Homo sapiens: one gene and its partners. The protein of the gene in region 5 purifies or fractionates together with the protein of the main gene of each other region. This does not show direct contact. Each region holds a gene or a part of one and is shown on either strand. Other genes may lie near its edges. The genes, in order: ERC1, MED20, MED23, MED1, CDK19, MCM3 and CCNC.

Region 1 (3,500 bases), on a different chromosome or scaffold from region 5:
GGGAATAGTGGTCTGGAACTGGCACTGGCAGGAAGGAAGGTACCAGCCTCATTTCCCAGTATTGGGTGTGGAGTGGAAGAGACTGAGTAGCTTTCACTTAAAAGGACTATATGAGAAGAGGTGTCCTGATTGGAAAGTCAGCTTTCAGTTAAGGCAGAGAGGTAGCAAGAACATTTCCCAAGGAAGTTGAAGACTTTTAGAGGAGTTTCTTGATAAAAGAATGAAGTTCCATGAGAGTGTATTTTTCCACCCTATTGGCTTGTTATCATCATTTAAACTTTAAAATGTCTCTTCATCTTAATAAAAAACTCCAGATTTATACTTTATTGCTCTAAGTTGCTCTCTGCTTTACACACTTAAGAGTTTTCTGCATTTGCTGTGTATCTCCATTTCTTCACCTGTGACTTCTCAACCTATTTCTGTCTTGTTTCTATCGCCATTATTTCAGTGAAACTGAAAATAGCTAGTGAAAATATGTATGAAAATAGCCAATGTCTATTTTACTATCCTGTTCTTATTTAACCTCTTAGCAGCTGTGCTAGTTTCTATTGGCTATATAACAAATTACCCCCTAACTTAAGAAACATTTATTGTTTCACAGATTTTGTAGATCAGGAATGTGGGTGCAGTTGGCACCTATGATTCAGGGTCTCTCACAAGGCTGCAGTCATCTCAAAGCGCTACTTGGGGAGGCTGTTTCCAAGCTCACTCATGCGGCAATTGGCAGGCCTGAGGTCCTTGTTGGCTGCTTGCTGGAGAGGTGAGTCCCTTGCCATTTGGGTTTCTGCGTACGACTACTTAAAATATGATATCTCAGTGCTTCTGTCTTCAAAAGAGGACAGATATTAGCCAGAATCTTTTTGTAACCTTATCTTGGAAGTGATGTGGTATCACTTTTGTTGTATTCTGTTATCAGCCAGTCACTAGGTCCAGTGCACTCAAGGCAGGATTTCACAATTGCATGAATGCTGGGAGGCAGAGATCACTCATAGCCATTTCAGGACTGTCTACCACAGCAGCATTTGACAGAGCGGATACCCCTCCTTCCTTTGTAAAGCTCTCTCTTCTCTTGAGGTCTTCAGAGCACTTTTCTGTTTTTCTTGCTGGTTCTCTGGGCTCTTTCTCTGTCACTTTTTTTTTTTTTTTTTTTTTTTTGAGGCAGAGTCTTGCTCTATCGCCCAGGCTGGGGTGCAGTGGCACAATCTTGGCTCACTGCAACCTCCGCCTCCTGGGTTCAAGTGATTCTCCTGCCTTAGCCTCTTGAGTAGCTGGGATTACAGGTGTGCACCACCACACCCAGCTAATTTTTGTATTTTTAGTAGAGATGGGGTTTCACCATGTTGGCCAGGCTGGTCTCGAACTCCTGGCCTCAGGTGATCTGTCTGCCTTGGCCTCCCAAAGTGTTGGGATTATAGGCGTGAGCCACCGTGCCTGGCCTCTCAGTCACCTTTTGAGTCTTTCTGTGCTCATTTATTAAATGTTTGAATTTCTTTGGGCTTTCTCATCGCTTTCTATTTCATTTTTCATCTGTGTGCTGAGTATTCATTTTTATGTCTTCAGTTTTTACCTCTCTCCTGAGTCTGAGGACCACTCTATCGAATTGCTACTGAATGTTTCCATTTGGATGCCCCTTAAACCGAACACATCCAGAACGGAATGTATGATTCCTACACTTCCTCTGGTGTTTCTTAATTTGTTAAATGACACCACTGGGTGCTTAAGCCGGAAATGTGTGTGGTGTTCTTGATTTCTCCCTCTCCTCCACCTTCCATTTTACTATTGCTTTTTATTTTTCTAGAGCCATGGCTGTTCAGTGATGGTGTGAATGTTTCTATGAGGTAGTGCATCCTCTGCCAGGTTGCAAGCATTGAACCTGGTGCTAGGTGATTTTTTTTTTTTTTTTTTTTTGAGATGGAGTTTCACTCTGTCGCCAGGCTGGAGTGCAATGGTGCAACCTCCGCCTCCCGGGTTCAAACGATTCCCCTGCCTCAGCCTCCCGAGTAGATGGGATTATAGGCGTGCACCACCACGGCCAGCTAATTTTGTATTTTTAGTAGAGACGGGATTTCTCCATGTTGGTCAGGCTGGTCTCAAACTCCTGACCTCAGGTGATCCGCCTGTCTTGGCCTCCCAGAGTGCTGGGATTACAGGCGTGAGCCACTGTGCCCAGCCCGCTAGGTGATTTTTAAGATTCCTTCCAATCTTGAGATACTGCGTGTGTAGCTATTGAAGATTTCTGAGTAGGAGATGCATGATCAGGGCTGTGCTTCAGAAAGGTGGCAACTCTTGAACAGTCATTTTTAGTTGTTCACCAAAGAATGAAACTAAACACCTGTATTCTTTTTAACTTTATTATGGTGTGCTAAGTGATGAATAGATAATTTTTATGTGACAGCCCTTTTGTATATATTAGTTTCATTTTTTCTCATTGTTAATGCATTTATGTTTGGAAGCCCTTTTGCATGGAAATAAGATAATCAGGCCAGGCACAGTGGCTCACGCCTGTAATCCTAGCACTTTGGCAGACTGAGGTGGGTGGATCACTTGAGGCCAGGAGTTCAAGACCAGCCTGAGCAACGTGGCGAAACCCCATCTCTACTAAAAAATAAAAAAATTAGCTGGGTGTGGTGGTGCACGCCTGTAATCACAGCCACTCTGGAGGCTGAGGCATGAGAATTCCTTGAACCCTGGAGGCGGAGGTTGCAGTGAACTGGGATTACACCACTGCACTCCAGTCTGGATGACAGAGCGAGACCCTGTCTCAGAAAAAAAAAAAAAAATAACCCAATGGGATGAAAATTTTGGGATGAAAATTTGTGTGAACTTAAATTAAGTGTCTCTGCCATCCTGGCCAACATGGTGAAACCCCGTCTCTACTAAAAATACAAAAATTAGCTGGGTGTGGTGGTGTGTGCCTGTAGTCCTAGCTATTTGGGAAGCTGAGGTGAGAGAATCGCTTGAACCTGGGACGCACAGGTTGCAGTGAGCCAAAATCACGCCATTGCACCCAGCCTGGTGACAGAGCAAGATTCTGTCTTAAAACAAAAAAAATTAAGTGTCTGAAATTGTAAAAACTTCTCAAGAAATAAAATTCAGACCTTAAACATAATTTTACTGTAGGAATATAACTTACCTTTTGAAGGAATTCTTTCTTGAAGCCATTATTTGTGTATTTATTTATTTTTAATTAACTTTTTTGTTTGTTTGTTTTTTTGAGATGGAGTTTTGCCCAGACTGGAGTGCAGTGATGCGATCTCGTCTCACGGCACCTCCCAGGTTCAAGCGATTCTCCTGCCTCAGCCTCCCAAGTAGCTGAGATTACAGGTATGGGCAACCACGCCTGGCTAATTTTTGTTTTTAGTAGAGATGGAGTTTCACCATGTTGGCTAGGCTGGTCTCAAACTCCTGACCTCAGGTGATCTGCTCACCTCGGCCTCCCAAAGTGCTGGGATTACAGGCGTGAGCCACACTGCCGGTGCTTGCCACCTTGCCTGGCTAAT
Region 2 (4,113 bases), about 69 Mb from region 5:
CCAAAAATACAAAACTTAGCCAGGCATGGTGGTGTGCGCCTGTAATCCCAGCTACATGGGAGGCTGAGGCAGGAGAATCACTTGAAACCAGGAGGCGGAGGTTGCAGTGAGCCAAGATCGCACCACTGCCCTCCAGCCTGGACAACAAGAGCGAAACTCCATCTCAAAAAGAAAAAAAAAAAGACGAAACTTGGCCAGGCACGGTGGCTCACGCCTGTAATCCCAGCACTTTGGGAGGCCAAGGCGGGCAGATCACGAGGTCAGGAGATCAAGACCATCCTGGCTAACACGGTGAAACCCCGTCTCTACCAAAAATACAAAAAAATGGCCGGGCGCGGTGGCTCACGCCTGTAATCCCAGCACTTTGGGAGGCCGAGGCGGGTGGATCATGAGGTCAGGAGATCGAGACCATCCTGGCTAACAAGGTGAAACCCCGTCTCTACTAAAAATACAAAAAATTAGCCGGGCGCGGTGGCGGGCGCCTGTAGTCCCAGCTACTCGGGAGGCTGAGGCAGGAGAATGGCGTGAACCCGGGAAGCGGAGCTTGCAGTGAGCCGAGATTGCGCCACTGCAGTCCGCAGTCCGGCCTGGGCGACAGAGCGAGACTCCGTCTCAAAAAAAAAAAAAAAATACAAAAAAATTAGCCAGGCATGGTGGTGGGCGCCTGTAGTCCCAGCTACTCGGGAGGCTGAGGCAGGAGAATGGCATGAACCCGGGAGGCGGAGCTTGCAGTGAGCCGAGATCACGCCACTGCACTCCAGCCTGGGCAACAGAGTGAGACTCTGCCTCAAAAAAAAAAAAAAAAAAAAAAAAGAGGAAACTTAAGTACAGCACAAAGAGGTTAAATAACTTGCACTAGGTCACACAGTTAATGGGTGGTACACTCAAGACTCAAAGCCCAGCAACCTGGCTTGATGTCCATGCTCTTAACCACTAACTAGACTGCCTGTATAAGGATGTAGTGCCTGTTAAAACATTAAGGAAAATCGATTAAAAAATTAATAAACAATAGTACAAGCAGTACTTAGCTATATAGAAATCAAGAAAACAGTCATAGATGACATTGCTTTATGATCAACTAAATGAATCTATTAAGGTAGAGTCCTTCTGTTGCTAAAAATTGTCACTACTCTATCAGAAAAAAACACTGATAAACGATGTTGCTAATGTGCCTTATTTTGAAATACAAAAGAATCCCTAAACTGACGCTACAAGTGACAGAAGTCCTAGGATTCTGAAAACGTTGATAAGGGGGCCAACAGAGAGCCCTTTCCCTGGAGCTGCCTTCTCCATTTAAAGAGCAGGGGTGGCTGGGCACGGTGGCTCATGTCTATAATGCCAATACTTTGGGAGACCAAAGCAGGAGGCTCGCTTGAGTTCAGGAATTCAAGACCTGCATGTACAAAACAGCAAGACCCCATTTCTATTTCTTTAAAAAAAAGAAAGAGCAAGGGTTCCAGGGTTCTACGCTGCATCCTTTCCATTTCCATTCCTCACATATCTTGCTTCCATTAAGGAACACAGGAGGATCGTGTCAATCGTAGGAAGCAAGAGTGCAATCACTGAGAAACCTGCAAGAACCTGGGCTACCAGGAGGAAAAGTATTTCCCCTACACATGCTTTTGTATGAGAAGCCTATATCCACTGGCTTCAAATATCCTGGCCTCCGGATTTCTCCCACGGGAAAAATGCTCACATCTACTGAGATAAGAAAAAAATGTTCTGGGACCTGGCACCTTACAACTAACGCCTCCACGAGCACTGGACCCATACCTTTCCCTGCCACCTCATCTTCTTTCAACTGAGACTTAAAACATATGAAAGATAAAAACTCCATTGAAACTAGACCAACCATGGAATTAAACATAGTGGGAAACGGGTCCTAAAGAGATAAAGTGCCTGGAACCATGATCTCCTTATTATCAATACCCTTTTTTCCTCTAGACCCAAGATCTTAAAATGAGCAAATTAGAAACAGACACAAGCGGGTCTAACTGTATTTGATGGCTGAGGGAAGAGCAGGCGAAAATCTTAAAAAATACTATCTCCTGATTGCTTATGGCCCACTCCCTCCAACCCTGTCTGCAGGTGGGTCATAGTCCAAAGACCCTATTTCCAACCCTGAGGTCCCACTGCAGGCAGTACTATGGCCTCACGGGAAGGAAGATGTATCCAGAAGAGAATGAGGTATACAACCATTGATAGGTTCCTGGGATAAAAAGTTTGCTTTGTCGACACCAGCGTGGCCAATATGGTGAAACCCCATTTCTACTAAAAATACAAAAAGTAACCGGGCGTGGTGGCGGGCGCCTGTAGTCCCAGCTACTCGGGACTACAGGAGAATCGCTTGAACCCAAGAGGCGGAGTGTTGCAGTGAGCCAAGATCGCTCCACTGCACTCCAGTCTGGCGACAGAGCGAGACCCCGTCTTAAAAAAAACAAAACAAAACAAAAAAAAAACCTTTGCTTTCCCGCCTTCCAAGAGGAAGGGGCGCATCTCTGAGGAAACAAGCCCGGGGAACCCGCAGCCCGGACGGCATCCTCTCATCTACACAACCCGAGGACATCTCCCTCAGCTCCCAGAGGACGGCGGACCATGGTCAAGGTCCTCTTTCCGGCCTTTCACAACTCCAAGCCCCGCCCCACAAAACCCCCTGCAGTCCTACCAAGTCACTCCCATGGCGTCGGGCCAGGAAGGTGGCAGAATCACACAGTAGAAACGCAGGGTTCCCTGTCCGCCCACAGAAACTCCTTCAGTTCCCCAACACAACCTTCTGTCTCAGAAGGGACTCCGGAAATACGTAAAAACAGAGCGCCGGGTCCACGCCTTCCCCAAGGAATGGGGCGTGTCTCGGCACCCCTCGGTGACGCCTCCACTGACATCATCTGCGGATTCCCGCCCCGAGGTTTCTAAATCCAGACATTCCCGTTTGGCTGAGCACTCTAGGCCTACATCCATGAAGCTAGGAGAGCGACACTCAAAGACTGCACTATTGAGAGAAGCTAACGTTAAAGGCAGTGAATATATTCGGGAGTCCAGCTCCGGAACCCGGGAGCTCTTTTAGTGGGAGGGGCGGCGCTGATGGCGCTTCTGGCCTCCGAATGCTAGGGGGCGCTGTGATCGCCGGGCGGCCTCTTGGGCGCTGGGAGTCCACCGCGCAAGCGCATCCTGGCCTTTCTTCAGTCCCCACGTGCGATCCTTCCCGGCAACTTTTTCGAGAAAAATGCCCAAATTCAAGGCGGCCCGTGGGGTGGGGGGTCAGGAAAAACATGCGCCCCTGGCCGATCAGATCCTGGCTGGGAATGCGGTGCGGGCGGGGGTCCGGGAGAAGCGGCGGGGTCGCGGGACAGGAGAAGCGGAGGAAGAGTATGTGGGGCCCCGGCTGAGCCGACGGATTTTGCAGCAAGCACGGCAGCAACAGGAGGAACTCGAGGCCGAGCATGGGACTGGGGACAAGCCCGCGGCGCCGCGGGAACGCACCACGCGGCTGGGTGAGTGTCTGGGATGAGGTCCGAGGAAGACAGTGGCCAGTAGTGGGGCGGGGTGGGCAGCTAAAAAGTGTCTGGCAGGGGAATTGCTTCGAGTCAACAAAGGGGTCCGTATTACACTTGCAAAGGAGACTGAACCCTGTCTAGAGCCCTCCGCGTCCACTCCTAGTTTTAGGCACTCCCTTCTAGACACCCCCGAAGTTAGGCCAACAGTAATCGATCGCGCCACTAAGTGCTCCTAGCATGTATCCATTGGTTTTGTAAATATTTATGGGATACCCACTACGAGCTTTGCGCTATGCTCGGAATTCTATCGAATGTTTGGGTACAGAAGTAAACAACACAGGCACGTCTAACTTAAGGACCTTACAGTCAAGCCCAGCAGAGAGGCAATTAAGTAGACTCTTAGAATAATATATTTCCATGATAAAGTATCGTTTCCCTGGTAACAATAGCATTGGTCTTGAGAAGCTTCTCCGATTGCAGCAGGACCTTTAAGCTGAGAACTGAAAAACGAATGGGAAGTGTTATGAGCAGAAAACACATTGTTTAGCAGCCAAAGAGCGAGAGAGATGAATTGAAAGACGTCTGATGTTTTCTCACTAGGGAGGGAGTGTTGACCTCT
Region 3 (3,500 bases), about 21 Mb from region 5:
GAGGCGGGCAGAACACGAGGTCAGGAGATTGAGCCCATCCTGGCTAACACGGTGAAACCCCATCTCTACTAAAAATACAAAAAATTAGCCGGGTGTGGTGGTGGGCACCTGTAGTCCCAGCTACTTGGGAGGCTGAGGCAGGATAATGGCGTGAACCCGGAAGGCAGAGCTTGCAGTGAGCCAACATCACGCCACTGCACTCCAGCCTGGGCGACAGAGAAAGACTCCATATCAAAAAAAAAAAAAAAAAAAAAAGAAAAAAAAAATTCTGCTGGAAATAGACATCAAAGTCAGGAGAAGAAAAAAACATTTGGGGAATGTTTGTTACCAAAGTGTACAGAAATGGTTATATTCGCACTCTGTAAAGAAACACAGTGACTTACTGCTACTTCCTCCCTCTAGTGGGAGTTTTGGAGAATCAACTCAGGGTCTAATTGCTCATATTTTCAAAGTATCACAAGGCTAGGACCACATCTATTTTATTTACTTCTGTACCTTCTATACATAGAACACAGTTGATATTCAATATGTACTTATTAAATGAATGAATAAGGAAATTGGGGCTGGAAGCAGTAGCTCACGCCTGTAATCCCAGCACTTTGGGAAGCTGAAGAGGGAGGATTGCTTCAGCCCAGGAGTTCGAGACCAGCCTGGGCAACATGGAGAAACCCCATCTCTATAAAAAAGTTAAAAAGAAAAAAAACTAGCTGGGTATGGTAGCATATGCCTGTACTCCCAGCTACTCAGGAGGCTGAGGCAGGAGGAGATTGCTTGAGACCAGGAGGTTGAGGCTGCAGTGAGCCATGATCACGCCACTGCACTGGGCGACAGAGCGAGACCCTGTCTCAAAAAACAAACAAAAAAACAAAAACAAACAAAAACAGAAATTGGAAAATTTCCGGCTCTTTAGGGAAGTGACAGCAATGCTTGATATAGTATAAATTCATTAAATCCTTCAAAGCAATATAGAGCAGATTGGCATAACATATATTAGTCATACATCTTGATCTAAGAGAATAAGCTTAGAAATGTATTTATTCTTACCAGGCAGAGAATTAATCTGTCCAGTGTAACAATGTTATACTTCCATACCATGTCATTAAGAATTTCAATGCATTTATTGAGTTGCTGACCCCCTGCTGATGTAGAAAACTCATATACCAGGAAATCTGCAAATGTCCTCACATGGGCTACCAAGGCCCTGGCTCCAATTCTCTCTAATACTCTGGAAGGCAGAGAGTAAAACATAAACTCCATTGTTGTATGGATACAACAATTTGCCAAATGGAATGCAAATTAGGTTTTTGACTTACCTATAGCCAATCTGATTAATATGATCTGTTTCCAAGAGCATTTTCCAGAGAAGACAAAGAAAGAGAGGAGGGGAGCCCTGCATAGAGAAGTGGGTAATAATGTCGTTTTCGTTGCTCATTGACTTCCACTTCCTATACTCCTCCTCCACATTTTTTTTCAGATTAAAACGGCTTTCCTGAGGCACATTATTTTGTTTGAAGAATGCCTAAAAAGAGGATTAGAAGTTTATTTCATTGGTTATAGTAGAAAGAGCACTGGATATGGAGTTAATAAACCAGTTCTAGACTTGATTCTGACACTAATAAACTCTAGGTCACCTTGAGCAACTCAGCAATTAAGGCCTGAATTTCTGTGTCTGGAAAATACATAAGCTTGACTAGATTATCTCCAAGATTCCTTTTCCTAGATTTCCTAAATGGAAATTCTAAGTAAGCCTGAATTCAAAGCTTCTTCAATCATCTGTTGATACTTCCGCCAATCTTAAAAAGAAAAAAAAGAATGAAGTGTCTCTACCCTTTGGCTACATATGTTAGTGTCTTTGAGGAAAATCCATTGCACTAGCCCAGTGATTCTCAGAGTGTGGTCCCAACACCAGCGGTATCAGCATCATCTGGGTCTTACAAGAAATGCAAAATTCTCAGACCTTATCCCAGATTTACTGAATCAGAAGCTCTGTGGCTGGGGGCCCAGCCAACTGCAGCTTAGCAAGCCCTCCAGGTGATTTGGTAAGTTTAAAAACCAAATGCTCTAGCCCTACCAGGAGTTATGAAAAATGGATGTTCATCATGCCTAACATTTTTTCTGAAAAGGAGAAGACAGATGAGGTTTGCCTTTCTCCTTATTAGAAAAGCCAGGTTTACAGTTTTTCTGTGATTAAGAAAAAAATTCAGTGAAGTGTCATATTACGCACACTCTGTGAAGCTCCATTACGTTATACTTCTCCCCATTTCAGTTCTATGAGAGAGAAAAAAGTTTTCAGGTACTATGTTAATTTTCATGAGATTCTAAAACCATTAACTATTTTTTTCTCTTTTTCAATTTTTTTCACTTTTATTTTTTTCCTCTTTCTACTCTTCCTCCCCTTAAAACTGTTAACTAAGATGAAACCATAATAATTAAATTTTTAGAAACATGTCCAGTACCAGAGTAGGACACAGAACAACTTGAGAGATTTTGTAAGTAATGACTTTTTTTTTTTTTTCTACAGACAGGGTCTGGCTCTGTCACCCAGGCTGTGGTACAGTGGTGTGACCATAGTTCCTTGTGAACCTGAATTCCTGGGCTCAAGCCATCCCCCTTGCCTCAGCCTCTCAAGCAGTTAAGACTAGAGGCTTGTGCCACCATGCCCAGCCCCTAAATATTTTTTAAAATAAATAAAAGCTAATTTTATTCAGAAGTCACCAAGACTCACTCTAGAACACCATTGTGAATGGGAAGAAGGATTTCATGTGCATTCAATAAGTAATTCAAGACCAAATTACCTGTAGTGGGCCTGGAAAACAGCTCAGGGTGTGTGAAGCCCAATTATGAGGAGTGAAACTCATGATGGTCTGAAGTATGTCTTTACACCAAGTTCCCTGAATTGAATCAGAGCCTGTAAAAAAATCTAAACATAAACAAATAGATGTAATCCAGATATAAATGATTATATCCACAATTCATAAAAGATTATAGCGAAAATAATAATTATGTACACTGAGAATTTCACTGCAGTGCATTCACTGCTTAACTAGTTATATTCAGCTTAGAACCTAAATTTGCTTAGTTTATGAATGATCTGGATGATCACATTAGAAAATATGAGAACAGTTTATGAAAAGATGACAAAAGACATTTGAAATCTCTTTTTTTGAGGTTACAGAGTACCAGCGATAACAGTAATACAAGCCCATCACTACTGTTCATTTACTTTGACACTGATTTAGTAGTACTTTATTCGGCCAAGGGAACAGAATAAAGAAAGATATCTTTTTTGGTGAGTGAAATAATTACATAATGCATGTATAAATCTCAGAATTGAAGAGGGTTCTTTATGTAAAACAAAATAATTTACATAAACGTATTTGAGGTTGCTAAAACCAATAACTATCTCTTTAAAACATCAGTTCTCAAGTGTGGTCTGTAGACCTCTTGGGGATTCCCCAATAGCCCTTCAAAGATTCAATGAGGTCAAATAATAATAAAAA
Region 4 (3,500 bases), on a different chromosome or scaffold from region 5:
GTTAGTTTGTTTGTTTTGAGACAGAATCTCACTCTATCACCCAGGCTAAAGAACAGTGGCGCAATCTTGGCTCACCGCAACCTCCGATTCCCAGGTTCAAGTGATTCTCCTGCCTCAGCCTCTCAAGTAGCTAGAATGACAGACGGATACCACCATGCTCGGTTAATTTTCGTATTTTTATAGAGATGACATCTCAACATGTTGGCCAGGCTGGTCTCGAACTCCTGACCTCAAGTAATCTGCCCGCCTTGGCCTCCCAAAGTGCTGGATTACAGGCATGCACTGCCACGCCCAGCCTAACATTTAAGTTGTGAAATCTGCTCAGGCAGACACAGTGGCTCACACCTGCAGTACCAGCTACTCAGGAGGTCTAGGTGGAAGGATAACCTGAACCTCGGAGGTCAACACTTCAGTGAGCCGTCATCACACCACTGCACTCCAGCCTGGGTAACAGAGTGAGACTCTTGTCTCAAAATAAAAAAATAAAAGAATAAAAAGATAAAAATGTCACATCTATGAAGAATTGGCACACAGGATAGGTAAGAAAAATATCTGTATTTTATTATGGCTTTCTCCTGCCTTAAAGTACCATAATTCCAGGCCTGAAGTTACCTACTTTACTTCCCATTACTCTCATAGTAATATCATTAAAAAAAAAAAAAAAAAAAAAAAAACAAAGCTGGCTGTGTGCAGTGGCTCACGCCTGTAATCCCAGAACTTTGGGAGGCCAAGGCAGGCAGATCACCTGAGGTCAGGAGTTCGAGACCAGCCTGGCCAACATGGTGAAACCCCGTCTCTACTAAAAATACAAAAATGAGTCAGGTGTGGTAGCACATGCCTGTAATCCTAGCTACTCAGGAGGGTGAGGCAGGAGAATCACTTGAACCCGGGAGGCAGAGGTTGCAGTGAGCCAAGATTGTACCACTGTACAATCTGGGCATCAGAGCAAGACTCCATCTCAAAAAAAAAAAACAAAGCTTAGATTACTTTGAATCCGAAAGCAGAGAAGGGTGAAATCAAAGCAATAACTAAATTGCTCCTTTATTTGAAATTCATGCTAATTCTGAAAACAACATTTTTTTTTTTTTTTGAGACAGAGTCTCACTCTGTTGCCCAGGCTGGAGTACAGTGGCATGATCTCGGCTCACTGCAAGCTCCACCTCCCGGGATCATGCCATTCTCCTGCCTCAGCCTCCCTAGTAGCTGGGACTACAGGCGCCCGCCACCATGCCGGGCTAATTTTTTGTATTTTTAATAGAGACGGGGTTTCACTGTGTTAGCCAGGATGGTCTCAATCTCCTGACCTCGTGATCCACCCGCCTTCACCTCCCAAAGTGCTGGGATTACAGGCGTGAGCCACCAGGCCCGGCCTTTTTTTTTTTTTTTTTTTTTTTTTTTTTTTTTTTTTTTTACAACAAAAACAAAAACACGGAGTCTTGCTCTGTCGTCAGGCTGGAGTGCAATGGCGCAATCTTGGCTCACTGCAACCTCCACCTCCCAGGTTCAAGTTATTCTTCTGCATCAGCCTCCCGAGTAGCTGGTACTACATGTGCCCGCCATCGCGCCTGACTAATTTTTGTATTTTTAGTAGAGATGGGGGTTCACCATGTTAGCCAGAATGGTCTCAATCTTCTGACCTCGTGATCCGCCTGCCTCGGCCTCCCAAAGTGTGGGGATTACAGGCGTGAGCCACCGCGCCCTACTCAACAACATTCTTTATACATCTCTAAATGGGACTCAGATGAAAAAGGGCCAAGGCTACCTTTGAACAACTTTGGCAATGAAGTCATCTGTGCAGATCAGTGCATCCGACAGCCCTTTGTAGAGTTTACAGCTCACATGTGTTGAGTCCTGCACATCCATTACCACTGAAAGACAAAATACATAGGAAATTGTTTTAGATTTAGCTTCTGACTTTTCCAAAAAAGACATAGGGACCAAACCGCTCCATGAGAGGTGTTAGCCACCCACACAACTCACCACACACCAGGGAGTCATTCACAGGGTGCTGAAAAGATACGCTGAAACGAGACTCTGAGAGAGGACACACTTCAAATTGGAGAAGCCCAGGAGAATCTAAAAGGCAAAGAGAAAGATCATAAAACAACCAAATATAAGACTTCACACAGGCTGGGCACGGTGGCTCACGCCTGTAATCCCAGCAGTTTGGGAGGCCAAGGCAGGTGGATTACCTGAGGTCAGGAGTTCAAGACCAGCCTGGCCAACATGGCGAAACCCCAACTCCACTAAAAAATAAAAAAAAGAGGCCGGATGCAGTGGCTCAGGCCTGTAATCCCAGAACTTTGAGAGGCTGAGGTGGGCTCATCACCTGAGGTCAGGAGTTCGAGACAAGCCTGACCAACATGGACAAACCCCATCTCTACTAAAAATACAAAATACAAAATTAGTCGGGCGTGGTGGCACATGCCTGTAATCCCAGCTACTCGGGAGGCTGAGGCAGGAGAATCACTTGAACCTAGGAGGCGGAGGTTGTAGTGAGCTGAGATCGTGCCACTGCACTCCAGCCTGGGCAAGAGTAAGACTCCATCTCAAAAAAAAAAAAAAAAAAAAAAAAAATTAGCCGGGTGTGGTGGCGCACACCTGTAATCCTAGCTACTCAGAGGGCTGAGACAGGAGAATCGTTTCAACCTGGGAGGCAAGGGTTGCAGTGAGCCGAGATCATGTCACTGAACCCCAGCCTGGGAAACAGAGCAACACTCTGTCTCAAAAAAAAAAAAAAAAGACTTCACACAAATAACATTCCTTAAATGTACAGACTGAAATTCTCTCTCCCTCCTTGGAAACTAAATCGCACACTTTTTTCACATACAAAACCTACTATATGTCATCCACAGATGACAGAAGGAATCAGATTCCAAGGAACCTGCCAGTTTGTTATAAATTTCTCCAGAACAAAAGTAGCTAGACTTTCAATTTTCCAAGATGAAGAAACTTAATCCCTAAAATGTAAAAGTGAATTCTGAAAATAAAAGTGGCCGAGTGTCTCATTCTACTTGATAAGCAGATATCCAGAACCACTGCCATAAACTCTGCTTTCTATCAAGTGTTTGCAGCTGTTAGATGTGCAGCCCATAGTTTGGCAAGCAGAGATATAGAGGCTATAATCTAAAATAATGTATTTATTCCACATATATCTAGCCATCATCATATGTTCTTATGCCAGATGTGCTAGCAGCCTAGACACAAGGATCATATACTTTCTTTGTAAAAAGCATGCCTCTCTATAGGATTAGCTCCATAACTGCCTTATGAAAACTCATTTTTAAATGCCCTAAAGCTATCTGGAGACTTCTTAAGGCATTTTAACACATGAAACAGAAGTGCCACAACTTTGAACATATATGCTCTATGTTATTACTCCAACTACTAAAAATTTCTCATTTCTAAAGCAATTTTTATTTCCATGAGAAGAATCTCCTGGCCCAGCACAGTGGCTCATGCCTGTAATCCCAACACTTTGGGACACTGAGGTGGGAGGA
Region 5 (3,496 bases):
ATAGTTTTTAAAAATGCATGTAATTTGCATATACAATAATCAGCTATTTCTTCTAGCTCAAGAAAACATTTAAAACAAGGCTGGTGCTGCTAGTAGCATTCAGAAGAACACAAATTTCTTGCCCCTTACATTACAATGGGAGCTCTAAGTTTTTACATTTCCTTTTGACTCTGGGGAGTGAGGGGCTCCTTAAAGCAGCTAAGAAAGAACTCAGCCACTAATTCATAGATAATGGAAATGCAAATATTCACTTTGTCTAGTATAGTCTTATACTATCCGCCCATAGTTTTTAGGCACAATTATTAAGTTTTCTCCTAGGGGCAAAAGAAATCATTCAGTGCAATGAAAAAGATTCTTGATAGAATTAAGTTTCAGTAACAACAGCAAAATTATGCATACATAATACATACTTTAAACATGAATAAAACCTAAATTTTTAACATGCTTTAAAAATAGTCACTCTATATCTAATACAAATACGAATGGAGAACACTGCTCTTTATTTTAAAAGCAGATTAATTTTCAGGCTTCTACTTGAGTAACCTTGATTATGCAAGAAAGTTACTCACGCAGACCCAGATGTGAAGAAACCAATGGTTCTTTAGAGAAGCCGACTTTATGTACAATACACACTAAAAACTTTTCCTTCAAAGGGAAGTAACACGTCTTTTGATCAAAATTACTCCTTACAGAAATCCTAGTGCAGTTGTTACTCTCTTCAGCGTTTTGGTGTGGGCCATCGAGACTGTACAAAGCTCTTGAAACCCTTTTTAAGGTAGACTTAGCTACATGAAGGTTAAAATTGTAATTCTTAATTACTGAATGCTATTCAGAATAAGATGATGCTGGGAACTCAGTTCCATATGAATGATTCTATAAAAATTACCACATACTTCAGTTCTTCGTGGCATAAAGCACATAACTGCAAAGATCTAGGCAGTTTTTGGTTGTAGGTTCCCTCTGTCCCACCGCTTGTCTTTTTATTAGACCTTCCCTGAAACTAGATAAATACGAACGTAATAGTAAAGTACTTTGGGACAGTAACAGTTTCTGTTTAAGACTTCCATGAGCAGAACAGTTATTGTCTGTGAAAACGTAGTGCTTTAAAAGGTGCATTTTTACCTGTGTTGCTAAATCAGTTCATGAAGTATAAAACTATACACCACTGGAATCCTGTTTCTAAAACATTAAAATCCTATTAAAAGAGCTTTGAAAAGATAAACCATAGTGATTGCTACAGCATGAGAAAGGTGCACCAGGAAATCCTTCAAAGAAATGCTGAAGGTTACAGAAGTGCTGGGATTAGATCAGACGCTTTATCAGAGAAGTCACAATGGAACACATGCAGGGAAGGGGTGCTGGGGAAACTTCACAAGAATCTTCTTTAAGTCAATAAAGAAGAGCTATCAGTCCTGCACAATGCTCAGTATATAAGGTTTTCCTCCCATGTGTATGAGTTTTAAATGGCATCATAGTTTGCATTTTTTTGGTTCTTTTCAATGCAGACATATTGCTGGAGCCTGTGCTCTGGGCTGGGCTGGCCTGGCCCAACGGGAGCTGGTCAGTACCGGTGGGCCTGGTGAGATGGGTGGTACTGTGAGCTCTGCTGAGACGAGGAAGAGTAGCCAAGTGTGCTCTGGGACTGAGAGGATCCCTGAACGCTGCTTTGGTAATTCAGGCGAGAACTGGAGTGCTAGGAGAAGGAAACAGGAAAAGGGAATTACTGATGGAGGAAGAGGATGACTCAAGATGCTCATCACAGTAGGATAGAGATATAAGCCGTTTTCATTAGGTTCCTGGTTCAGACACACATAGCTGACAGCTAACTTAAGTTGTTAACACATTTTGCTTATTTGAAATCACAGCCTGCCACCACTGTAACCACACATTCTGGCAGGCATGAAATTTGGCTAGATTTTTGTGGGAGATAAGCTACACTGGAAAGAAAGGAAAAGGGGAAATTTCAGCGGACCCATTTCTCTTTATTCCAATTCTGGGGTGTAACAATCCTTTGCATAACTGAGACGTGCAAACAAGAATAATCAATTTGGCATACTGAAATCAATAGTATTCATAATGTATACTGACATGCTATTATTTTTCCCATTATAAATAACAAAGCTGTGATTAAGAAATCATTATTTTAGAGCAAAGGGTTTTCAGAGGTAGAAGCTAGGGGTATCAGGAGTTCTACCTACGAGACAAAGTAAGGCAAGATTAGGTGGGGTGCGGCAGCAACATGTGGGTTTTATAAACTTCAGGTAACATTTAGAATAAAGCAATTTTCACATATGATTGTCTTCAAGAGAAGACAGAAAAATGCATTTCAATTCAATGTATTTTTATTACATTAAATGAAACCTTCATCTTCATAGTACCTAACGCAAATACAAAAAAAATGTGTAAAAGGAAAAATCATCTATAGAATAAGAACAGTATGTAAGAGACAAGCATAGCTGGAAGTAGTATCTTTGGCTATATTCAGAAGGCTGGTTTTTCTTGTAAGCAAAGTGGGAAAGAATATATGTAATAAAGCTATTACTTTTGAAACTTCCTTAGCAAAAATTAAACAGCAAGAAAATTATGACAGTGAAAGAGATCTGATTTAACCCACTCCATCTTGCCTTTAACCTCCAAACTGTTCTTGGTCATTGCTGGGCATGGGCCAAGCTAACTTTGGGAGAAATTTAGTTTATAGTTTAAACGACAATAGTCCATCCCAAAACTAAACTGCCTTTATAAAACTACTAAAAGGCCACAAGTTTAGGATTATGAGAGAGGCCTGAATTCTGCTAAGATGTAGGTGCAGTTAAACAATTACCAGTCATTGTTCTGGAGGTCAATTGGCTACTCCCCAATTACTCCTGTAAATAACATCACTATTGTCAACCTTTTCAGAAGGCTTTTCAGACTTTTGCATTTCGGATGACTCCACCCAGACTGAGACTCATGACTCAACCAGTCCTGTGGCCCCCACCCAGAAGTGGACTCAGCACAGGAAGACCATTTTTCACACCCCTTTGATTGCATCCCCAACCAAGCAGCAGTAGTCATTCCCTAGACCCCTGCCCACCAAAGTATCTTTGAAAAATCCTAGCCTCCAAATTTTGAGGAGGCTGATAATAAAACTCTGATGTCCCATTTAGCTGGCCCTATGTGTATTAAACTTTCTCTATTGAAATTCCTGTCTTGATAAATTGGCTCTATCTGGGCAGCGAGCAAGAAGAACCTGTCGGGCGGTTACACTTTGAGTTAAACATGTAAATTATCTTGAGGTGGCACTGGGGGTTTAGGAAAGAACAGATCAGCAAGGTCCTCCTGCTCAGTGCTCAAAGGCTGCCAAACGACTTGGAATATCTGGTCCAAGATAACAGGGCACTAAGGTAGTTTTGGTTAAAAACAACTCAGTTGTGGCTAGGCACAGTGGCTCACACCTGTAATCCCAGCACTTTGGGAGGCTGAGCTGGGCAGATCACCTGAGGTCAGGAGTTCAAGA
Region 6 (3,500 bases), about 58 Mb from region 5:
AAAGATTAAACCTCTAAACAAGTTTTGGAATCCAGGCTGCTCTGTGCCTACTCTGATAATGGCCTGATAGTGTAATTTGTCTTAGAAAATAATTTTTTGCAGTTAGGAACAATGTACCTGTTTGTGTGTTTCTTCAAGTATTTTCTTTTTTTTTTTTTTTTTTTTTTTTTTTGGTGAGACGGAATCTTGCTCTGTGACCGAGGCTGGAGTGCAATGGTGCGATCTCTGCTCACTGCAACCTCCGCCTCTTGGGTTTAAGTGATTCTCCTGCCTCAGCCTCCCAAGTAGCTGGGATTACAGGCGCACACCACCACGCCTGGCTAATTTTTTGTATTTTTAGTAGAGATGGGGTTTCACCATGTTGGCCAGGCTGGTCTCGAACTCCTGACCTCGTGATCTGCCTGCCTCGGCCTCCCAAAGTGCTAGGATTACAGACCTGAGCCACTGCGCCTGGCCCTCTTCAAGTATTTTCTATAGGCCAAAGTATATAAAGTGGAGCTCCACAAAGTCCCATTGAATCTCACTAGGCTTGCCATTGGTTATTTCTCCTGTAGGATATCTTTGACCAGCTGGCCAAGTCATTGGCCCCAAGTATCCATGGGCATGACTATGTCAAGAAAGCAATCCTCTGCTTGCTCTTGGGAGGGGTGGAACGAGACCTAGAAAATGGCAGCCACATCCGTGGGGACATCAATATTCTTCTAATAGGTACGATGTTGGGGATTTGCTTTAGACTGTTGTTCTGATGGAGTGGTTGTGGAGACCTATAATATGTAAGATTGTATATTCTGTACTTAGCAGTATTTCAGTCCTATCAAAGGACAAAAGGCTAAAATGAATCTTTTTTTTTTTTGTCATCTCTGGAATTCCTGATTTATAGTATATAAATATTCTTCCGTGAGTGGTGAAGGGAAAAGCGAAGGAAAAATATTAAAATCCACTTACTGTGTGACTCTGTTGTGTCAAGAGCTGTGCTAGAAAGGCAGAATTTGCTGGGGGTGCTGGGGAGTTTCCTAGAGAGTCATCACTGCCCCCACCCTACAGGAGACCCATCCGTTGCCAAGTCTCAGCTTCTGCGGTATGTGCTTTGCACTGCACCCCGAGCTATCCCCACCACTGGCCGGGGCTCCTCTGGAGTGGGTCTGACGGCTGCTGTCACCACAGACCAGGAAACAGGTAAGGGTGTAAGGGTCCTTGGCAAAGGCCCAGCAGAGAGCCTGAGCATAGATCCTTTGTGTGCCCTGGCTTGTGTTCTGAAGATACAGCTGATAGGTTAGTTGGGTCCAGATTATAGAGGACTGAGTATTCAGCAATGGTGGGTGAATTATTTAAGTCTTTGGTGTTCATCTATTTACAGGAATGTTTTCGATTTAAAGGATTAAGTCTTAGCACATTAGAAAGGAAATAAAAATGAAGATTGTACTATTTTATGAACTAGAGGAAGGGATTTGGAGACCAGTGAAGAGAAGGCAGAGGTCTAGTTGGGGTATTACTTGAGGTTGAGGCCGAAGAGAGAATCTATGAAGGAAATTTGTGAGAAGCTAGTTACTTAGGGGTCAAAGTGGGACAAAGAGATACTATTAATATTTAGATTAGAGCTGAAAAGGTGACCCACCAGGGTTTCCTCTAAGTTTCTCGGAGCCAACACACCATTGCCGCATTCTCACGTGCAAAGTGAGAGATTCCTAGGAAGGAGATTGAAATCCTTCCCTTCTGGCCCCTATAACCTAGACTGTAGCACGTATTTTTACCTTCTCACTTCCCAGGAGAGCGCCGTCTGGAAGCAGGGGCCATGGTCCTGGCTGACCGAGGCGTGGTTTGCATTGATGAATTTGACAAAATGTCTGACATGGATCGCACAGCCATCCATGAAGTGATGGAGCAGGGTCGAGTGACCATTGCCAAGGCTGGCATCCATGCTCGGCTGAATGCCCGCTGCAGTGTTTTGGCAGCTGCCAACCCTGTCTACGGCAGGGTAAGTGGAATCAGGCCCCAACCATTGTCCTCACCTTCATTTGGTTTTGCTGACTAACTGGGCTGAGAAGTGTATTCTAGGTGACCCAGGGGAATAATAGGCCAAAGACTAAAAGTAAGGCCATTTTCTTGTTATTGTCCTTTGTTTAGAGCAGTGTTCCTCACCCATTCCTGCACAGCAGAATCCCCTGGAAAGTTCCTTATTTAAAAGTAACTTTTTAACAGTACAGTTAAACAGTCCATTTAACATATTTAACCGTCCATTAAATAAAAGGACTACATGCATGTGGCGGGAGAATTTCTAAACAGAACAGGTATATAGTATGAAAACGAAAAGACTTGCTTCTCTCTCCTGTCACTTTGCCAAGAAATAACAGCTTTGAAGTGTTGCAGGAAACAAAACTTTAAGCATGTACCAGCAAATACACTATTTCCTTGTTAAGAATTATCTCTGTTTTTACCATGACTGTGATGTGCTAGATATAATCTTTTATATTTGTCTGTGCGTGGGGTTTGTTGAGTTTTTCCTTTTAAAAAAATAGATTTCTAGTATTCCGTCACAGGGATGTATTTAACTAGTCTCCATCTGATGGGTATTTAGTGGTTTCCATTTTTTCCTCCCTATTTTGAATGAAGCTGTAGTGGCCATCCCTTTATGTGTGTGGATAGATTTGGGAATATATCTGTAGTATAAATACCTAGCAAGGAAATTACTGGATTAAGAGTTATGTGCATTTTTCTTTTGGTAGAGATTGCAAAATTACCCTCTTTAAAGATTGTACCATATTAATACTTCTATTAATGAATGCTCATAAATGCTTTGTATTTACCAACTCCTTTTATCCTATCAGTAACTACCTCACAATGTGTAGTTATCTTTATTTTACAGATGAGAAAATGGAGGTACAAAAGATTATGTAACTTGCTCAAGAGCCACAAACTTGAAAATCGCAGAGCCAGGATTTGAGCCCAGAGCTCATGCTGTGTCCTGGCAGTTTATAATCAATCCCACAGTGTATGGGAACACCTTGTTGCGATGCGATGGTGTTTTTTATACATACAGTTGCATGGTCCCCCGTTCAGAGTTTCTGAATTAAAATCTCTTGAGTTGGAGCTCTTGGTAGCTATGGTTTAGAAGGGCTCCACAGGTTTGGTTTTAATGTGTAGCCAAGGTTGAAAACCATAGCTTTTAAAATTAATGATAGGGCTGGGCGCAGTGTCTCATGCCTGTAATCCTAGCACTTTGGGAGGCTGAGGTGGGAGGATCACTTGAGCCTAGGAGTTTGAGACCAACCTAGGCAATATAGTGAGACCTCATCTTTAAAAGTAAAATAAAATAAAATAAATGATAATGTATGTTTATGTCATTCTCAAGAGTGATTGGGAAATACAAGAAAAATGGCAGGACCTGAAACGTGAACATGGTCAAAATCATTATTACCTAAAGGTTGTTATGTTCTCTGACTGTGAAGTGTATGTGGATGGGTAAGTATCAGTCCAGTAGGCCCAGAATTGAAAGGAGAGTA
Region 7 (3,500 bases), about 11 Mb from region 5:
AAGCACTGTACTCTAGTTGATAAAGTTATTACCCATGGGTGTACAAGTTAACAATTCTGATAATGCTATACATGTATATGGGAATTAAACAATTACGTAAATCAATAGCAAATGTTTGAGAGCCGGGTTTCTCATTGTTGGAGCGGGAATTTACAGATAAGCAAAGGGCTGGAAACAGCATGAACTCGTGTACCTTAATACAATATAGATGGTTAGTTACATATAGAAATATTTATAGATAAGTGTATATACATGGGTTAGTGTGTGTATTTCTTGGCTTTCTCAGCTGAAAGGGTCTATAAGCAATGACATCCCAGTAGCAATGAGCTCACCTAGTACCCATATCTTGGTTTCTAATATCATTCTCCAATAAAAGGTACCAGGGCTCCTTGGAGAAATGGTTGATTCTAGGACTGGGGCAAGAAATACACAAGATGGACCTGGACCATCTCTTAATGCCAGTAATAAAGAAGTATTCAAAACAAACAAGAAAAACAAAAACGTCTATTGATGAGGATATGTCAAAAGGATATAGGAGCTAACTAAGAGAGCTCCCACTGACCAAAGCTGAAAGAATTTGAGCATCAAAATTTTAAAAATAGCATTGGATAATAACTCAAAGTATAAACTAAATATCCATGAGTCCATACTGATATAAATAAATGAGGGAGAAGAGACATGTCTTCCATGCTGAAGAATTCCAAATAATATATGTAACTATTCTGCCCTCAAGTAGAGGGAGCATAACTCCCCACTCCTAAGGTGCTGGCTATACATGTTAACTTCCTGCTAGTGTGTACATATGGAAAGGGAGGAAAAAGGTAACTTTACAGTGGGGAAACCTGAGAAATACTGCCTTAGCCAGGCGATCAAGGTCAGTAGCAACAGTGATAAATCACATTAATATCATGTATCATTGATGTGATATGATGAAGATGGTACTTTATCTCGGTGGTCTTCCTGTCAAAAACCCATTTTCTCTAGTCTAATGAGAAAAACATCAGACAAATTCCAGTAGAGGGGCATTTGACAAAATACTTGACTGGTACTCCTAAAAACTGTCAAAGTCATCAAAAACAAGGAAAGGCTAGAAAACTGTCACAGCCAAACAGTCTAAGGAAACATGACAAATAAATATAATGTGGTATCCTAGATAAGACCCTAGGATAGAAAAAGGACATTGGTACAAACTAAGGAGATCTGAAAAAAGTACAGTTTAGTTAATAATAACATTTCAATATTGGGTCAGTAATTGTAACAAATGCGCCATACTAATGTAAGATGTTAATAGTAGGGGAAGCTGGGTGAAGGCATGTCTTAGTCCACTTGGGCTAATATAAGAAAGTACCATAGACTGGGTGGCTTTCACAACAGACATTTATTTCTCACAGTTCTGGAGGCTGGGAAGTCAATAACGGTGGGTATAAGAGAACTGTGCATGATCTCAGTGTTTGAGTCTACAAAAATAAAAGGCAGAGGAATATAATTAGGTAGAGTTTGTTTTGCTTTTTTCAAGGGAAATTTGAGCATATTAGTATGTGATGGAAGATTTACTGAAGGAGGAAGGTTAAAGATGAAAAAAATAGCAGGAGTTATCAATTGAATAGATGATAATAAGTGTATAAGTGGTAAGACAAACAATAGAGAGGAGGGATGTATTTTTCTCCAAGTTGGAGGAAAAGGATTAAAAGACAGAAAAAAATGCAGAGCAGTTTTAGCATGGAGTAACAGACATGTGACAGTATCAGGTAAATATATTCTCAATAGAGGTGTTAGGTGTCAAGGTCCAGGGGATGGGGATGTAGATTTGTTTTATATACAGAGATAATTTTACTTTGTTGATTGTCTACCATTATATAAGAACCTGTTGTGCTGGTATACTTTACATCACAAGGATTTGTAAAACTCAGAAACCTTAATAGGTACGTCTTAAATTTAAATAAAGGAGAGAAGAAAGGAAAGATTATAAATTTACTAATGTCAAGTTTAAATTATTCTAGGTTTCAAATCCTGGCAGATATTACACATCTAAATTAGCTGTAGGGCACTGAATTTGCAAAACAAATCTTTTTGAAAACATAGTGCATAGAAGAAATGGAATTTCTTTCTTTTTTTTTTTTTGAGATGGAGTCTCACTGTCACCCAGACTGGAGTGCAGTGGTGTGTTCTCAGCTCACTGCACCCTCTGCCTCCCGGGTTCAAGGGATTCTCCTGCCTCGGCCTCCCGAGTAGCCGGGACTACAGGTGCATGCCACTACACTCGCCTAATTTTTGTATTTTTAGTAGAGATGGGGTTTCACCATGTTGTCCAGGAGGTCTCGAACTCCTGACCTCAGGTGATCCACCCACCTTGGCCTCCCAAAGTGCTGGGATTACAGGCATGAGCCACTGTGCCTGGCCAGAAATGGAATTTCTTTTAATTTCAGTGAAATCACTTGGGCTTTGTACAAATGGAAGCTGACACTAAACATTTTTTAGGACCTGTCAGTAGTTACTTGGTTGAATTAAATGTGTCATAATGGCTTGAATACAGTTTCTCAAATAGTACTTATGTGTATATGCTCACACCATTTTAAGGAGATGGGGGATTGATGGTTAACATTTTTTTTTCATTTGTACTTTATTTAGTGACTAACCAATAAAGTAATAGATAATAGAGTACTAACTTTATGTGTTACTACTACTACTTTATGAGTAACTCGAGACCTTTGCATATATATTAATGCTTTTATTAAAATATATATTTTGATAAATACCTGGTCATTGTAAAAAGTTTAGAAAGTGCAGATTAGTAAAAAGTTCTTAAATCTCACAAATAACCACTGTTAACATTTTTTTGGTGTACTATCCTCCCAATATTTTATATGTATATTTTTTACCAATTGTATATATTGTAAACACATATGTAACCCCTGTGTTCCTTCTAAGCTCAGTCACTGGAAAACAGAAGAATACCATTCTGTAGCTGAAAAGATTTTAGAAATGATAAAAGCCAGTGATTTTTTTTTCCTGATCTTTTTCTTTTTTAAACATCAGAATCCTTTCTTAAGGTAGTAAATATAAAATTGAAGCTGTGTAGAGTGTCCTGCCCCCCAGTCTTTCCCCTTCCCTGAAAGTAAATAAAAATCTGCGTCCGTAAGTGTTGCCAAGAATTCCTACTGAAAATAATTTTGCTCTACCCTCTAATATTCTGCTCTGTTAAAGGAATTTTGAGTTAATTTATTTCCCATTTTCTCAGTTTAAATTTTTTTTTTATTTTCTGCAGTAAAAACTAGATTTTCATATGCCTTTCCAAAGGAATTTCCTTATAGGATGAATCATGTAAGTATATGATATAAAATGGAACAATTATCAAAGCTATATATAAACTAGCTCTATTTTATATTAGACTAAATTTAATAGTTTCCTAGAAATGGCAGTTTCAAATATTACATAAATACAGACATTATTCTAAATTAAAGCTAAATAGCTTTTACCATTTAAAAAAAATACTTCATAGT

What was found.
Region 1: the proteins of CDK19 (region 5) and ERC1 purify together in Homo sapiens (affinity purification with mass spectrometry; 2 studies listed by BioGRID and IntAct, with this or other methods). This does not show direct contact.
Region 2: the proteins of CDK19 (region 5) and MED20 purify together in Homo sapiens (affinity purification with mass spectrometry; 7 studies listed by BioGRID and IntAct, with this or other methods). This does not show direct contact.
Region 3: the proteins of CDK19 (region 5) and MED23 purify together in Homo sapiens (affinity purification with mass spectrometry; 7 studies listed by BioGRID and IntAct, with this or other methods). This does not show direct contact.
Region 4: the proteins of CDK19 (region 5) and MED1 purify together in Homo sapiens (affinity purification with mass spectrometry; 9 studies listed by BioGRID and IntAct, with this or other methods). This does not show direct contact.
Region 6: the proteins of CDK19 (region 5) and MCM3 purify together in Homo sapiens (affinity purification with mass spectrometry; one large-scale study listed by BioGRID and IntAct). This does not show direct contact.
Region 7: the proteins of CDK19 (region 5) and CCNC purify together in Homo sapiens (affinity purification with mass spectrometry; 10 studies listed by BioGRID and IntAct, with this or other methods). This does not show direct contact.

What each region holds. Positions count from the first base shown.
Region 1 is NC_000012.12:997,723-1,001,222, forward strand, and holds part of ERC1 (ELKS/Rab6-interacting/CAST family member 1), read left to right. Parts: intron 1-3,500. UniProt on the Homo sapiens protein: Regulatory subunit of the IKK complex. Probably recruits IkappaBalpha/NFKBIA to the complex. May be involved in the organization of the cytomatrix at the nerve terminals active zone (CAZ) which regulates neurotransmitter release.
Region 2 is NC_000006.12:41,918,340-41,922,452, forward strand, and holds the start of MED20 (mediator of RNA polymerase II transcription subunit 20), read right to left. Parts: upstream 2,801-4,113; 5' UTR 2,680-2,800; coding exon 2,666-2,679; intron 2,605-2,665; exon of another isoform or gene 2,461-2,604; intron 1-2,460. Other genes in the region: BYSL (bystin), read left to right, coding at 3,224-3,491. UniProt on the Homo sapiens protein: Component of the Mediator complex, a coactivator involved in the regulated transcription of nearly all RNA polymerase II-dependent genes.
Region 3 is NC_000006.12:131,597,243-131,600,742, forward strand, and holds part of MED23 (mediator of RNA polymerase II transcription subunit 23), read right to left. Parts: intron 2,921-3,500; coding exon 2,796-2,920; intron 2,269-2,795; coding exon of another isoform or gene 2,263-2,268; exon of another isoform or gene 2,225-2,262; intron 1,520-2,224; coding exon 1,314-1,519; intron 1,226-1,313; coding exon 1,045-1,225; intron 1-1,044. UniProt on the Homo sapiens protein: Required for transcriptional activation subsequent to the assembly of the pre-initiation complex. Component of the Mediator complex, a coactivator involved in the regulated transcription of nearly all RNA polymerase II-dependent genes.
Region 4 is NC_000017.11:39,413,264-39,416,763, forward strand, and holds part of MED1 (mediator of RNA polymerase II transcription subunit 1), read right to left. Parts: intron 2,077-3,500; coding exon 1,981-2,076; intron 1,869-1,980; coding exon 1,763-1,868; intron 1-1,762. UniProt on the Homo sapiens protein: Component of the Mediator complex, a coactivator involved in the regulated transcription of nearly all RNA polymerase II-dependent genes.
Region 5 is NC_000006.12:110,612,974-110,616,469, forward strand, and holds part of CDK19 (cyclin-dependent kinase 19), read right to left. Parts: intron 1,694-3,496; coding exon 1,562-1,693; 3' UTR 1-1,561.
Region 6 is NC_000006.12:52,274,743-52,278,242, reverse strand, and holds part of MCM3 (DNA replication licensing factor MCM3), read left to right. Parts: intron 1-554; coding exon 555-708; intron 709-1,044; coding exon 1,045-1,176; intron 1,177-1,766; coding exon 1,767-1,975; intron 1,976-3,500. UniProt on the Homo sapiens protein: Acts as a component of the MCM2-7 complex (MCM complex) which is the replicative helicase essential for 'once per cell cycle' DNA replication initiation and elongation in eukaryotic cells.
Region 7 is NC_000006.12:99,551,661-99,555,160, reverse strand, and holds part of CCNC (cyclin-C), read left to right. Parts: intron 1-1,359; exon of another isoform or gene 1,360-3,265; coding exon 3,266-3,321; exon of another isoform or gene 3,322-3,500. UniProt on the Homo sapiens protein: Component of the Mediator complex, a coactivator involved in regulated gene transcription of nearly all RNA polymerase II-dependent genes.